Linked DNA regions of Homo sapiens: region 1 is linked to region 2. The links come from fine-mapping of genetic effects on gene expression. A gene starts in region 2. The other region holds a variant in brackets. All regions are shown on one strand. Distances are from middle to middle.

What was found.
Region 1: its variant is fine-mapped to the expression of STX7 in whole blood (INTERVAL, PIP 0.99).

What each region holds. Positions count from the first base shown.
Region 1 is chr6:132,455,308-132,460,646 of GRCh38, forward strand. STX7 (syntaxin 7) reads right to left here. Exons shown (of 10, transcript NM_003569.3): 10 at 1-5,339. Among named protein-coding and RNA genes, the nearest start is that of STX7, 55 kb to the right of the region's middle. The variant T/C (reference allele first, on the strand shown) is at 2,597.
Region 2 is chr6:132,510,199-132,515,589 of GRCh38, forward strand. STX7 (syntaxin 7) reads right to left here and starts at 2,918. Exons shown (of 10, transcript NM_003569.3): 1 at 2,809-2,918. RefSeq lists enhancers at 2,166-2,667, 3,025-3,224 and a silencer at 2,385-2,874.

The sequences.
Region 1 (5,339 bases), 55 kb before region 2:
ATCAGAAAAATCTTAGTCGAGGCTAAATAACTGCATTTATAAGCTTTCTACCAATGCTATTAGGTGTTGGAGTTAGTAACTACTGCCTAACGATACTTACAGTAAACACTTAAAAATTTGTACTTTGGGTTGGCCAAAGTGGGAATTAATGCCCTTTCAAGTTTATTTAAAGATTCAATTCAGTTCTAGAAAACTCCCTCGTCAACAAGTAGAGGTGTTGTGCGTGTAACGACTGGACAGGAAATCTGGTTTTGCCTTCCACCACTTACATTTTAAGCATAAATGCCATCACTACACAAAACCTACGGGAATCCCACTCTAAGCAATTAAGTGACCAACCTCTTAAAAACTTGCCAGAAGCTACAGTGTCTACAAAAACCTATTTAGTGTGTTATTTAGCTCTATTTCTGCATTTAAAATTAGGATTATTTGGAGAAAAATATTACATAATATTCATGTTAACCAAATGATTACAAAAACAAAGAATTAAAATTGGTGTATTGATATGGTATTTGAATAATGAGAAAATGGGCCAATAGGAAGATTTTCTTCTTTATTCCTATTTGATTTAAAAGAAAAAGATTTGCCAAGGGATGGGTAGGGTTAAATTAAAAACATTTTAAGAAACATTTCTTTATATGGAGCATACTTACTGTTTTTGCTTTGAGTGCATTCTGATGAAATATAGATTCCAAATTCCCCTTGGATCTCACCCTTCTGTCTAGTGCTTTGCCCTCTATTTGGGGCAGTAATTCTATACATATCCTGTAAATGTCTGTCCTGATGATCAGGATGCCCAAGCTCTGAATCCAACTGCTGCCACCAAGAGAACGGCTCCTTTTTGGAGCCATTACACACAGATCATCACTCAAATCAGTAGTTTCTCTTTAGAAAACTAGCAATTTTCTGGTAGTCTGTCAATTAAGAAAAGAAAATGAAATTCAGTTACTTAGTAAGGAAAACTGGATAAACAGGAGGCTGGTCCAAACGGAGATTTATATTTAGACATTCCCTTTCTTCCTTGCCTCATTCCTTTCACACAGCTATTTCCCTTCTTTTAACACACCAAGTTCTTTTTATATGCCAAATAACAAAACATAAACTCCCTGAGGGCAGGAAGCTTATTCTTTTGGTTCACTCTTAGAACACTATGCCCAGGCATGTAGTAGCCTGGCAAAAAGCCGGCCCCAAATAAGTGCCAAATTAAGTATTTATTAAGCAACTACTACGGGAGGGAAGGAAGAAGGGAAGGAAGGAAGGAAACTGTGTTAAGTCCTGGGGCCCCAGAAGCTTAGTATATGTATTTTTTATTTTGGTTGGAAAAAAATGACTTGCTTACCATCTAGAGCCAATGCTTCTAAATTTTTCCATCAAAGAATCTTTAATGAAAGTGAGGAAAATTCTGAGGCTTCCACTTCACGTGGTTTGAACTGTACATCTCAGTGTTTGTTTCACAATTATGCTAGACTGTCAACTCACTTCTCTTTCTAGAATGTCCTCTGCAGTGCAGGTAGACCAGAAACCACACTTCCCACAAACTCCTTCTGTCTCTGGTTCTAAGTTGAGAGTTGACCATGAGAAAAGGAGAGACCATCTTTCCTCAGAGGCCACTGCAGACAGAAGTGTAGGCGGGCAGAGGACATGAGTTTCACAGCAGTTTCAAAATCTCTTGCAAGGCACTGGCTTTGGAGCTATTAACAGCTGACAGCTGGGGACAGCTCCCTGAGACACACTGTCAGTGCTGCACGCCAACAGCACAGCCTTCTGGATGTTCTCAAGAGTCACAGCAGTGCCTGGGCCAGCTCCTGAGATCCACCCACTTTGGGGCCGCAGACACCTTCCTCACCCACCCTTTTGATGTCTAATTCCCTATGTTAAAACACTTTACACTTATAATCCATCAAGTGGTTTCTGTTTTTCTAACTGAATTGTTAAAATATGCAAAATTCACATTAAAGAAGTTTCCTACCTATCTTGTGACCTCAGTGAATGAGATGCTGCTTTATCCAATCTACTGACTTTGGAAAATCCAGCTGAAATGAGGAAAGATAATCGTGCATGTCTGGCAACCAGGTAATTTCTTTCCTATCTTTCATGTCACAGTATTTTGAGGACACAAATTCCTAAATACTCAGAAAAAAATGGTTTTATCTTAATTGATTTATAAATTATGTTAGGGTAGTTGTTAAACAGAATTTTGTCAAAGAAGCAGTACACTGTAACACTTTCAGGCTCCCATTGGTTTAAAATTTGATAAGTGTATTTCTTTGCTGACAAGTCAAACTGTTCAAATGTTATGGAGGACTAAAAAGGCCTGGGATTCACAGGCTCATTTTTTGTTTTAACTGAATCATGAAAATACACAACTTTTTTTTTTCCAGGAAAGACAGATGTTATTTACCACCAATGAATTTTTATCATATTTAAATGAACTTGAAAATGTCATTCAACTCAAATCCCTCAATCAACTTACTTCAGCCCATTCTGAAACTTCATATTGCAGCAAACCAGCCATGTGAAAGAAATAAATTCAATTTTGACTTTCAAAAAAAATAAATGCTGCATAAGTTACCCTTGTGGACCTTAGCTATTAAGG[T/C]GGACAATGACTTTATTTTCTTTACGTAAGTTTTATATTTTATTATGACATTCATTTTTTCTACATGAAGACACAAATAAAAATTATACCAACTACATAAACTATTTTGTACTTTCCTTGCTAAACCACAGATGTATTTCATGGAAAGAGGGGCCTTTAAAGGCACTTATTTATCATTGTAGGTGTGTCTAAACAATTGATATTCAAAAACACAACTTTTTGTGTACAAAATTTTACAATTTTTAACAAAAGCAGTGAAGACACTAAATAACCCAGTGGCGACCTCTTCAAAGTGCAGTGTCCTTGGTCACCAATGCAGATGCTACTGGGGCAGCCAGCGGGCTCAGAGGGTCCAACTCCAGACACTGCATCCATGGCTGTCCTAGACTGAGTTGCACTTGTAAAAGAGATGGTCCCACACCTACTAAAAAAACAAGCTACTCTAGTATCAATATGACATCACTCTTTTACCATCAATCATATTGCAAAACCATAGTATTTAACGACCAATAAACAGCCAAATACCTAATGCCACATTGTCGTTCAATTTACCTGGCTGGTTAATATCAGTCTGTGTTTGAGTATTTCTTTTGAGCACACAAAAACAAATGTATAGTCACTTGATGAGGAAATTCTTCACTTTGACTCAAATGGATTCACCATGCTGTCAGTTATGAAAACAACTCTAATTTTAATCTCCACAGGGCAACCTTCACTTTTCACAGCAGTTCTAAAACTGACCTACAGAAAAGTTCAAGATTTTTTAAAAAATTTGGCTACCATACTATGTTTCTTATTTAATTTTCTCTAATCAATACTACTCTTACGTTCCAAATATTTCATGGGAAATTTTTCCCTCAAACTTAATATGTTTCTTAAACAAATTGAAGCCACTAAAGTTCCTGTTTAAACCACTGATAACTGCCCCAGTTAAAATAATAATAATTTAAAATGATTACACTTCAAATAAAGGTACTAAAATCACGCCCCCCAAATTTGTAAGCGCTTTTGTTGTTATTGGGTACTCACTGTGAATAGAAGTAAATGTACTTGACCTGTATGAGAATAAACATTTTATCAAGTACAGCAAAAAAAACGGAACTGATTGTGAAAGCCATGGGGATGGGACTTTAAAACAGCGGTAAGACGCTGGTTTATCACCAGAAACCTCATGTGCCTCTGTGCACTTGAAGTAAAGACCACATTTGAGCAGGCCTGGTGGGCTGGCACAGGCCTCAGAACAGGTGCTGTTTGTGTGAATTCTCCTCCCTGCATTGTCCATTCTGTTCTAGGGCAGTCTGATTCTGGCAACAGGAGTCTCTAAGTTCCAATCACTCACTCACAAAAGAGTTTTCTGTAATCCCTTTTGTGGAAAAAAATGGAGTTTTTCTGATATGCAAAGCAACTTCTACCAGTCTGACAAAGTAGGTAAAATCGATGACACCCTAAAATAAAAACCTGGAGTGAACTGGTGCTCCAGAAAGATGCTGAATGGCCACAGTGCATGTGGTGATGTCTCCATGCTGAGGTTTCAGGCAGCACAGCACTAAGTATCAGGTGACCTGTGGTCCCACCAGAGCATAGTCCTCATGAAATAGGCCTAACCAGATACCTTTTAACTCATCTTTATTTTGGTTGCAAAGATGTGGTTTACTTAGCTACTTACTATTTGTTCCCATTTGAAGTCTCAGAGCTTGCCAAGTTAAACACCGCCTTCAGTACCGAGCTGCTATACAAGAACATTATAAAATACAAAGTATAAACTAAGATAATCCTCTTTACAGAATTCAGATTAGTGCATTAAAACAACATTGATTTAAAAAGGGAAGTGAGATAACTGGCAAACCTCCAATTGCTTTTTTAATGAAGGATGACACAAAATGGCACGCAAGGTAAACACTAAATTTTGTCAGGTGCTCAAAAACAGTTAATTGTGGGAAAGTTACTTTCCAAAAGTAATTTTGACCTAAAAATATTAACCATTATTCTATAAGACATAAGGGAAGGTAAATAATGGCCCACAAAACCAGATGATATGGTTAAGATAACTAGTTTAGTGGAATAACAAACTGGGGTCTTAAGAATCCAAACGCAATAGGTATTGGTATTGGTTGTTCATACTCTTCTTCCAAATTATGTTAAACATTTTTAGTAACTACACTTTCCCCCGTAAACATCAGACTTAAATAGACCATATGTAAAAACAACCTATCCTTAGTAATTTTACTAGGCAATCTACAGCAAAAGCTTAATATATACACAGAAAGAGTATCAAATAAACTAGAAAAGTATTCACCGACTTCAGGGTAAAAAAGATCTTAAAAGAAAACCAACAAAAAAATGAAAGACACTTTGTGCTGTTGTGAACCAGAAAAATACAACCCATGTATAGACCTTAATTATTTTACATTATTGAGAATATTTTCCCTGCTGAAGCAAATCAAAATTAAATTTGAGAATTTTAATTGAAGTAACACACATCTAGGTGTGTCACAGTGACAGGGAGATGCAAACAGAATACACACACCTTTAAATTTACGAATTCCCAAAACTAAGTCAAGCAGGGTAAATAAATTATAAATGAAAGGCATATGCAATGTGGGCAAAAACTTAACAACTATTAAATTGAAGACCAAGGGAGTTATGTCAGCAGTGACATTTAGAAAATCTTTCAGTATTAGAAAATATCAGATTTAATCCAAAGGAACCACCCCAACCCCCCCAATAAAAATAACAAAGTATG
Region 2 (5,391 bases):
TGCATATTTTCAAATACTTAGAAGAAAGAATGAATTGTGAATGCTCTTAACACAAAGAAATGTTAAATGTTTGAGGTAATGGATATGCTAATTACCCTGATTTGATCATTACACATTGTACACATCTACTGATGTATCACATGTATCCACAAATATGTAAATCATTATCTGTCGATTAAAATAATAAAAGCAAAAAAATCTTATTACAGGTTATTTTAAGCTGCTAACAAGATAACTGATTGCAGTAAGAAACTACACTTTTACTCTACATTTCATTTTTTCATGTGACAATTTACACCATTTTATATTGTGTATCACTTAAATTACATTGTAGCTCTCGTTTTTAAAAAATTAAAATTAATTAAAATTAAGTTAAATGAAAAAAATCAGTTCCTCAGTCACACTAGACACCTTTCAAATGTTCAAAAATTCTGTGTGGCTAGTGGCCAGCAGCTTGGACAGCTCATTCATAGACCACTTCCATTATCACAGAAAGATCTATTGCACAGTGCTAATCTCCACATTGCAATAATCATCTTTCTATGAAGATATACAAACACTATAAAGAGAAAAACAGGAAGGGAGAATCAAAGTGCAACACTCAGATGAGAGTCTTCTCAAGACGGCTTCTAAAGAACACAAAGGAATGAACAAAAGGAATGTTAAAATTTAATCTTGAAGTGTCAAACACTACTCCCAGTTAAAATCCGATATACTGTAGAATCCTTAAGATTTCCATTTAGCATATATCTCATGCTCTATAAATCTACCCTGGGCAAAGAAGTAGTCAATTTCACTTTCTTAATCATTAGCATCAGCATAAACAACTGGACTTCTCTATACCCTCTACCCCAAGTAAGTTCTGAGGGGTGGGGGGTGAGCATTTTTTTGTCTGTTTTGTGGACTGCACTATTCTCACTGCCTGGCTACATCACAAGTGCTTAACAAACATTTGTAGAATGAATGAATGTACCCACCTCCTAAGAACACACACCCAGCGTGAGGGTAAATATTACCATTTCCAAAACATAAAATTCCAGTGCCTTCTTTCAGATACCGAAGGTCCCAGGCTTCTTGCTGCCTTGGGCCTTTGCTGGGTGCCATTTCCTATTTCTAGAAGGCTCTTCCCATGATCTCCACGTGACTGGCTCCTTCTCCCCAGCAAGGCCTCATCACATGCTAGAGAAACCTTTGTGACCACTCTGATATGAAAGTGAGAACTCACCACTGGTCACTCTTTGTCAATCTAACTTACTGCTTCACAATACTCAAAAGTCGAATTAATCACTGTTTATTATTTATCCCTACACCTCTGGAATACAAACAGGAGCTACTTCTGGAATATAAACAGGAGAGAGATGACCTTGTCATCCTGTGTAATCTACAGTGCCTGGTGCATAGTAAATGCTCAAGGAATGTGAGGGTGCTCTGTCTACATAAGTATCCTCTGCAAAAACTACATTAACTGTATTCTTTGGCCTTAGCTCTTTCATCACTGACCTTTTGTACTACTTGGTTTTAGTTCACAATACCGAGGATTGTTTTTTTCATACTTTCACACATGAAACTTGCAAATTAAATGGAATCACAGCAAACTTCACTCAGACTTACTGTGAATATTTTCTATAATTTACTTTTCAATCATCAGCACTTAAAGTTTGGGGTCATAACCAAAATAAGGATTGATTTTGTTATCAAGAGCAACATAAGTAACATATCTGAGGAAAAATTATGATGTTAATCAGTTAATATGGTATCATATTAACCTCTACAGAAACTGTGAAGTTAAGAGCATAATTCTTAACTAGTCACGAGTCTGAGGCCAACTTCTCAAAGTAGCCTATAAGGCCTGTCCACAACACAAAACACAGTTTAACACCGTTATCAGCCTCTGCCCAGGTGTGCTCAGAGAACCTGCAGAAGAAATGTCCACTTCCAACATTATTAAATAGCACAGCATTTCATAATTACTTTCTTTTCTTCCAGATTCTGGGCAAGTTTTATATATTATATATAATTATAGTCAGAATACAACGATCTGAGGTAAACAAAAATTAACGTATACAGATAAGAGCCAAACAAATGTAAGAAATTTGTGGGAAAAAACACACAGCATTTGATCAGAAATGCAACTTTTTTTCTTTGTCTGAATTTAAAGAAAGTAACTAGAAAACAAGGTGGAGGAAATACTAGAAATATTTTATGTACGTTTAAAGGTTTTTATGTAAATTAATTAAAGGTGTATACTCAAAGAATGTCAAAGTATGTTAAAGTCATCAAGCCAAATTAAAAAAACAATACTACGATCCTCTGAATAAATAAACATACACGGTTCGCCTGCTACAGCCATACATTTTTCAGTTCCTCTATATTCGGGAAGTTTAGTGTGTTTTTCAATCCGTGAGTTGAAAAGAGGAAGAGGTCATTTGGTCGTGTCTGGATTCCTGAGCTGGGCCCCAGCCGGCTCTGGCGCCCTCCCCGGGGTGCGCTCCGCCAGCCGTGCGCCTCCGGAGCTCTGCCCAGGGGACCGCGGCGGGTGCGTGGCTGGGTAGGCCCACCTGACCACAGCCGCGCGCACCCGGAATGCGGAACGCGCCGCGCCCTTGCACCCGGCCGGGGGGCGTGGGGAGCCGCAGGCGCTCCGGGAGCTGGGGCAGTCCCGCCCTTCCTAGCCTCCCGAGTGCCTGCTGCAGAGCGCAGGGCGGCGGCCACCTGACCACGCGCACAAACAAGAAGGCGCAGCAGCCGCAGGGGCACCGCGCCTCCCTGTCGCCCGGCCAGGGAGCCCCCTCCCCAGGGTCCTCTTACCTGGACCTCCACGGCTCCCTCCTACACCTCCGACCGCCGTCACCCACCTACCCCGGAGCCCTCAGCTGCAATTCTCAGCTGATGGGCGGTGGCGTGGGGACGCCCAGTGCGCATGCCCGCAGCACAACTCAGGAAGAAGGCGGGGTTCACCCCTTTTCTATTGGCCCGCGGGGCTGAGTGACAGCGGCCCTCACCGCCCCTCCGGTTCCAAGCTAAGGAATGGGGGTATCAGCAAAATTGCAAGGGAGCTGTTCTTTGAAGCCTGACGTAGAGATGGTGAACGCCTCTTAGCCTGCGTGCAAAAAAGGACAGAATGGAGGACAGTTGTCTTCTTTATCTGGTGAAGCCAGCCTTCTTGCACGCGGGTCTTCACCCCGCCCCATTAGCTCTTGCCTGTCTTGTTTGCTAACCTTTAACTGCAGTAGATCGCGTTGACAGCTCTATCGAAAAATGCAAAGGCGAGTACACAATCCTAGCAGGAACAATGAAGGAATAAGTGAAGAGTCATCTCTGGGTGCTCACTTGTAAACAAGTTTTCCTAGTACATACAAGTCATTCTAAGCATTCCTGAAAAGCAGGGCGTAGTTTTCACAGGGTTTAAAACAAGCAGAGACAGTTCCAATGATAAATATGCAAATATATTGTAATTGTTAGATGAAAAGCATCAATTGCTACAAATGAAAGAAAGCCCTCTCCAAATTAATTAGAAGATAGATTGGCTTAGCCTTTGCCTATATTAAGGCAACACTATTTTCTAAAATGATTACCCGGATAGGTGATATCAAAAGTCCAGACGCACTTAGGTGGAAAAAAACAAAACCCAGGATAGAATTCTGATTGGAACTCACCAACACTAAGTGTGGAATGTTGTCTGCTTAAGAGAGATGGACAGAGAAAGAATAACCCTGAAAACGAGTAACCCACAAGATAGGAAATAAACCAGGAAAAGGTAAACTAGAGAATGAAGGAAAAAAGGAGGGAATTGTCCATGATGTCACCTGTTACACAAAGTTCAAGTAAATAAAGAACTGAAAGTAGTGCATTGTACTTGAGAATTAGGAAGTGGCTGGTGAACGTAGGAAGAAACATTTCAATCATTGAAGGAACACATGAAAGGATCTTACATCCATGTGAGGTTTAGTGCACTTTCCAAATACCCATTCATATTACCTTTGATAGAACTCTGGGCTCCGGGGAGGGAAGGTACAATGCACTACAGAAGAACCTGAGATTAAGTGGCCTCTTCAAGTTACCCTGATAGTTACTGACTATGCTGGGCCCAAAACTTAGCTGTCTGAGCCCTCATCTTGGGCTCATTCCAATTCCTTGTTTTAAAATATGTTATGAGTGGATTCCTTCCAGGTCTTTTGAAAACTTAGAATAAGATTTCATCCTTTGGTATTCAAATGGGAAAAAAAAGAATTATAGTCTAGACAAACTTGCAAAATTTAGAAGTATTAAGATAAATGAATTACTAAGAGTTCCTGACACAGTATTCCATCTGTGAATCTGGCTGCTACCAAGTTAAATTCAGCCAGGTGTCTTGAAAGTGGTAGGGCTTTAAAAGTCTCCTAATTTGATGAGTGATAATGTCACATCTCCCAAAATAAATCATTTCCATGTGCAGAAGTTACCTATGACTGAAAGCTTGTAATTTGGATTTTCAGAAATAGTAATTTGCGAGATTTGGGCCTTCTTGGAGAGATTTTGAAGGAAACCAGAAGTTGTTGAGTGGGGAATGTTATCTGCACACTTGTGGTGTCCTTATTAATATAAATACCATAAATACCTCCTATGTAACATCTCTCATGTAGGATGGAGAACTGTCCACTGCTGTATCTCCAGTGTCTGGGATAGCAATTCCAGGGAATAGAAGGAGATAATTGCTGGTTCATTTAATAGTTACTGAACTAAAAATATTTTTTACATGACCACTATGTGATCTTCTGGGAAAGCCAAAGAAGTAAAAGACGCATAAAGGTAAATAGAGCAAACAGGGACTTATTGGTAAGTGAGAAGGACAAGTTGACTTATGAAGGTTTGTTTTTATTTATAATACAGTGGGAAAACCACAACTGGTTTAAAAAATCTATGCTAGATTAAAAGGAAGCTTAAATTAATACTTAATAAACAAGAGTTAGTTCAGTTGTGCCTTATTGTTAAGCACCTTCCATGTCTCTCTACAGTCTACTTGTTTTCTGTTTAAGATCACACAAGTGCCTAGTCATATATCAAGCACAGAATTGATTTTGCCCTAGCTTTTGAACATGGAGGTAATAAACAGATATCCCGTGGAAATCTTACATGGGCCATTATAGCATGATGACCGGTATATTTGTTTCTAATTTTACCTCCTGATGACTGGTATTTTCGTTTCTAATTTTACCTCCTAAGTGTTGTTCATATGTGCCCTCTTCTCTCTGTCCCTCACGGTTGACATCCTGATCCACTGCAATAGCCTCCTTGTTGGATCTTCTATCTCCAGGTCTTCTCAACTTTATTATTGTCAAAGCCACCACTGAATATTTGAAGCTCTAATCTGAGAACTTTGCTCCAGGCTTCATGCCATTTCCATGATTGCAG